Regions from separate parts of the Homo sapiens genome. Here region 2 is linked to region 1. The links come from fine-mapping of genetic effects on gene expression. A gene starts in region 1. The other region holds a variant in brackets. All regions are shown on one strand. Distances are between the middles of the regions. Region 1 holds the start of DGKA (diacylglycerol kinase alpha). Region 2 overlaps PYM1 (PYM1 exon junction complex associated factor).

The links. PIP is the estimated chance that this variant, and not a neighbour inherited with it, causes the effect. A credible set is the group of variants that fine-mapping cannot tell apart.
Region 2: its variant is the best candidate, but not a certain one, in a credible set for the expression of DGKA in tibial nerve (GTEx, PIP 0.71).

The regions. Positions count from the first base shown.
Region 1 is chr12:55,930,086-55,932,989 of GRCh38, forward strand. DGKA (diacylglycerol kinase alpha) reads left to right here and starts at 1,077. Exons shown (of 24, transcript NM_001345.5): 1 at 1,077-1,259.
Region 2 is chr12:55,899,281-55,902,184 of GRCh38, forward strand. PYM1 (PYM1 exon junction complex associated factor) reads right to left here. Exons shown (of 3, transcript NM_032345.3): 3 at 2,133-2,904. The coding sequence ends at 2,592. It also overlaps the pseudogene GSTP1P1. Among named protein-coding and RNA genes, the nearest start is that of PYM1, 27 kb to the right of the region's middle. The variant C/T (reference allele first, on the strand shown) is at 1,721.

The DNA.
Region 1 (2,904 bases):
TGTTAGGGGACCTATTCTTACATTGTATGTTTGTTTAAAGTAGCTCAGAGCAGAGAGGCTTTACACACATTGCACCACTCATTGATATAGTCCCTAAACTGGACTATGTTTTTGCTTGTATTGCAGAACTAAGTACAGGACTTAGTGTATAAAAGGCCTTCAGAAGAGTTTGTTTACTATGACTAAGGAGGTCATAGAGGAAGGAGAGATGAAGCTTTGCTAACAGTGAAGAAAATACTGTAAAGACAGGATGGGGAGTGTCAAGGGCCTTGTTTTTTTTTTTTTTTTTTTTTTTTTTTAGACAGAGTTTTGCTCGTGTCACCCAGGCTGGAGTGCAGTGGCATGATCTCGGCTCACTGCAACCTCTGCCTCCCAGGTTCAAGCGATTCTCCTGCCTCAGCCTCGCGAGTAACTGGGACTACAGGCATGTGCCACCACGCCCGGCTAATTTTTTGTATTTTTAGTAGAGACAGGTTTTCACCGTGTTAGCCAGGATGGTCTCAATCTCCTGATCTCGTGATCCGCCTGCCTCAGCCTGCCAAAGTGCTGGGATTACAGGTGTGAGCCACCGCGCCCGGCCTTTGGCCCTTGTCTTTTTATGATTGGGGGTGAGAGGGTGAGACTTGGAGGGGCACAGGAGCAGAGAGACAGACCCCTCTTCAACCTATGCCCGAAATCTCCAGTTTGGATACAACAATACTCCCAAACCCTATTACTCAGCAGCTATATTTCTGGCAAATGTGGAGGAGTCTGTTCCAACAAGCCTGTCTTGAAACAATCAAGAACTGCTTAGATATCCCTGTTTCCACTAGAGGGCCTCATGTATTCATTCCCTTTCCAACCCCCACCAAAAGTATGTATATATTATGTGTGTGTATGTATGCATACACAATACCCACACATGCATATACCCTTCTAGTCAGAGGTCTCCCCTCCCCCTTCTTCCCACCCCCAGGTGTAAGAAGGACGATTCCAGGAACCTAAGGCTTTGTTACTCTGCCCCATTTTCAATGAAGGGTAGGAGGGAGTTAGACAGGGGTTGGGGCGGGGCCAGTGAGCAGGATGCCTGGGTCTCCAGTTCCTGCCAGTGAGTCCCTAGGCCTCCATCTCTCTCCCTTGCTGTACCACCTTCACCACCATCCATGCGACCCCAAGAGCCTTAATGACTCTAGAAGAGACTCCAGGCAGGGGAAGCTGAAAGGACCTTTCACTCCCTACTTTTGGCCAGGGCCTTCTGTGCCACCTGCCAAGACCAGCAGGTAAAGTGGGAGGATGAGGGCGTGGAGAAAGGGTGGACATAGACCAAAGTGCAAAACTCCACCCTAGAATTAAGGAGAGAACATGAGTCTTGACAGGAGGTGTCCTTAGACTGGGGAAAATAGGTCTAAAAGGAAAGAGGAACGTGAAGAAGGTGGGGAGATTGTCTCAAGCAGGGTAGAGCCCGGGGCGGGAGGGAGGTGTTTGGTCAGGTTGTGGAGTTTGGGACTCTGGGCTTGCCCCCGTGGGATCTCCTGAGTGTGAAGTCAGTGGTGGATGGAAGGGAGTTGGTTAGGGAAGTTCAGGATGGCAGCAATCAGGAGAGAATGAGACGTTGGTTGGGTGCCCAACTGCCGAGCTGTTCTGTTAGCGGCCCGCCCGGTATCTTGGTCTCCCAGGTTTGGGATGAAGGGAGAGGCTGTGAGTGATTAGAAAGAAGGGAAAATAGAAGCAGAGCTGCCGCCGGCGCGGGAAGAAGATGAGGAGCGCAGCAAATGGAGAAAATGTGTCCAAAGCCCCGGACATATTCGAGGGAGGGTGGAGCAGGTTATGGTGAACTGGAAACCTAGAAACGGGCCTCTCCAACTTCGAAGTTCCCAGAGTCGGGGGCGCCGGGCGCGGGCGCGGCGGGCAGGCTGGGGTGGGGGGCGGGCAGCTATGTCGTCAGGAACGGGGCGGCCCCGCTGCGGCCGCGTCTGCCTGGCCCGTCCCCTCCAGCCCAGCTCGGGCTCCAGCTCCAGCGCCGGCGCTTCAGCTGCGACCGCGAGCCCTCTCAAGCAAGGTAGAGACCCCGCGAGCCCCCCAGCGCCCCACCCTCCCCCATCGGAAAAGGACAGGGGTAGGGAAGCCGAGGACCCACGGGCTGCGTTCGTGCTGCTGGGTCGGGAAGGAGGAAGCGTGACAGCTGGAGCGGGTATCGAGAAGGGTCTGCGCTGGGACGCGGGGGTGCAGCGGGAGGGCTGGGCCCGAACCCGGTGGGTAACGTTTCCCAGACCTTCCCCTCCATCCCTCCCGCTCATTCGGAGGGATGGTGAAGCCCGGTTCCTGGGACCCGACTCGGAGGGAAGTCCTCTTCGGAACCTCCACAGTGCCGCACGGGTGGAGAAGGGTTCTTGTTTGGCCTCCAGGTCCCCAACTTCCCACCCCATCCTCTCCCCACCTGTCACTGGGAAGTTTCTGAAAATACCTGAGTCTGAATCTCACTTTTCACCTTGATAGGAGAAATGAGCCTTCCTGAGGAAGAATGGCAAATATTACTGGGCATCTCTTCAGCCTCAGCACAGACAAGCCCACATCCCCCAACCATGCCAGTATCGTAACTTCCTCCTATACTACGCAATGACACCCTCTACACACACACACACACGCACACACACACACACACACACACACACACACAACCCCCTCAGCCAGGTGTAGCACTGCAGTCTTCAGTGTTTGTGGAGGCTTAATAAGTTTTGAGGCTTCAAGCAAATGATTCCCTCTTGAGGGCTACCTACTAGCAGCAACGGTCAGGGAGAGGAGGAGGATACAGTCTATGATGTGATTAAGGAATTCAGAAGTCCAGGTAATCAGGCCTGGGCCCTCAAATTCGGGGCTCCTGCCCCTCTGGGGCAGCCTCAATATTCTGGAGACATAGCTATTTCC
Region 2 (2,904 bases), 31 kb before region 1:
TAGCTAGAGAAAAAGGCTGCGATAAATGAGGGTATGGAAACCAGAGGACATGTAAAAATTAAGTGACAGATCTTTTGGGTGTAAGTTCCTCTACATGTATCACTAATTTGCCCCACAATGCCATCTTGGGGTGGCATCTAAGAAGGTGAAATTTCAAAAGAGTTGTCCTAGGTGCAGCTGTGAAATAAGATTATCTTCAGAAACAGTAAGGAAGGTACAGAACTCCCGTTGCTATTCAGCACACTAATGGCAACATATAAATTAACATGTCAAGTTAAATTTGTTCTAAGTTTCATTTGATTATAACACTAATTCGTCTACTGAAGTCTCAGCAAACATGCAGAAATTAGTGTTGCTAATTTGGTCATAAACTCACAATTTTTAAAAATTAAATACCTCTGGCCGGGTGCAGTGGCTCACGCCTGTAATCTCAGCACTTTGGGAGGTTGAGACAGGTGGATCACCTGAGATCAGGAGTTCGAGACCAGCCTGGCCAACATGGTGAAACCCCATCTCTACTAAAAATAAAAATAAAAATAAAAATAATTAGTCAGGCGTGGTGGTGCACGCCTGTAATCCCAACTACTCAGGAGGCTGAGGCAGGAGAATCGCTTGAACCCAGGAGGTGGACATTGAAGTGAACTGAGATCATGACACTGCACTCCAGCCTGGGCAACAAGAGCAAAACTCCATCTCAAAAAAAAAAAAATTAAATACCTCAGGCTGGGCTCGGTGGCTCACGCCTGTAATCCCACTTTGGGAGGCCAAGGCAGGTGGATCACCTGAGGTCAGGAGTTCAAGACCAGCCTGACCAACATAGTGAAACCCAGTCTCTACTAAATACAAAAAATTAGCCAGGCTTGGTGGTGGGCACCTGTAATCCCAGCTACTTGGGAGGCTGTGGCAGGAGAATCACTTGAACCCGGGAGGCGGAGGTTGCAGTGAGCCGAGATTGCACCATTGCACTCCAGCCTGGGCAACAAGAGGGAAACTCTGTCTCAAAAATAAAGTAAATAAATAAATACCTCACCCTCATCTATACCAACTACGAGGTGGGCAAGGGTGACTTATGTGAAGGCACTCCCCAGGCAACTGAAGCCTTTTGAGACCCTGCCGTCCCAGAACCAGGGAGGATAGGCCTTCATTGTGGGCGACCAGATATCCCTCGCTTACTACAACCTGCTGGACTTGCTGATCCATGAGGTCCTGGCCACCAGCTGCCTGGATGTGTTCCCCCTGCTCTCGGCCTACATGGCACACCTCAGCGTCCGGCCCAAGCTCAAGGCCTTCCTGGCCTCCACTGAGCACCTGAACCACCCCATCAATGGCAACGGGAAACAGTGAGGGCTGGGGGGACACTCGGCGGGAGGCAGGGGCCGTTTGCCTCCCTTTCTCCAGGACCAACGAAGTTTCTAAGAGAAAAAAAAAAAATTAAAAGAAATATTGGGCTGGGTGTGGTGGCTCACACCTGTAATCCTAGCACTTTGGGAGGCTGAACTGGGTGGATCACCTGAGGTCAGGAGTTTGAGACCAGCCTGGCCAACATGCTGAAACTGTCTCTACTAAAAATACAAAAATTAGAGGGGGTGTGGTGGTGGGTGCCTATAATCCCAGCTACTCGGGAGGCTGAGGCAGGAGAATTGCTTGAACCCGGGAGGCAGAGGTTGCAGTGAGCTGAAACCGCGCCACTACACTCCAGCCTGGCAGACAGAGCGAGACT[C/T]CATCTCACAAAAAAAGAAAAAGAAAAAAATATATATCGGCTGGGCACAGTAACTCATGCCTAAAATCCCAGCACTTTAGGAGGCCAAGGTGGGTTGATCACCTGAAATTAGGAGTTCAAGACCAGCCTGGCCAACATGGTGAAACCCCATCTCTACTAAAAAATTAGCCAGGTGTGGTGGTGGGCACCTGTAATCACAGCTACTCGGGAGGGAGGCTGAGGCAGGAGAACTGCGTGAACTCAGGAGACAGAGTTTGCAGTGAGCCCAGATTACGTCACTGCACTCCAACCTGGGCAACAGCACAAAACTCTGTCTCGAAAAGAAAAGAAATCACTCCCAATACTTGTCTTCCTGTGCCAAACTCAGGAGATACAATATCTACTAGGAGCTGAAAATAAGGAGGCAAAGCCAGACATGTCTACTTGTGTTTATTCTCATTTTTGCTTTTTTTAAAAAAAAAAAAAAAATGAGGGATGGAGAGGGAAATAACCCATAAACACCGCGAACAGGAACCAAGACTCCAAGACTTGGGCATACTCCCTCTACCCTCAGCCTCAGTTCTCCAAGAGATTCCCACCCACCTGATTTTCTTTTAAACAAGACACCCAAATCAGCAGCAAAGGTACCTGGGGTAGTCACTGAGATTTTGAACACTGGGAATGGGAGGGGGAAAGTCCAAAAAGTAGAAGTTGGGAAGAAAAGGGAAGGATTGAGGGAGACGCTAGGCTCTGGAGGACAGAGCTGGGCCGCAGGAGGTGGAAGTAAGCCAGTATGGGGGGTACCCCTCCTGACTGCTGTTGCCCGTATTCCCCCAGACCCCAGAGAGCCCCACGGTTTGTTCTGCAGTCCATTCCCTATTCCCCAAAGGCCTCAGAGGCCTAACTCCAAGTCCTCTAACTCCTCTTCTAGCGCCCTCCTCCTTGCTAGCTTTTCTAGCTGCTCTTTGCTAGGCTGGCTGACTTCCCCAGCCTGGATCCGCTGCTGCAGCTCTTCCACCTGCCGGAGTTTCTTCTTTAGGTTCTTTATCTTCTTGGCTTTCTCAGTGGTGGCAGCTGAGTCAGGCTGGTCAGATGCAGCTGTGGGGGCTGCCCGAGAGCCCTGTGGAGCACTGGGGAGTTGGGCTGTCTCTTCCAGGGACACCTTATCAAGAGTCCTGCTCAAGGCCTCTGCCTCTCCTTTCTCT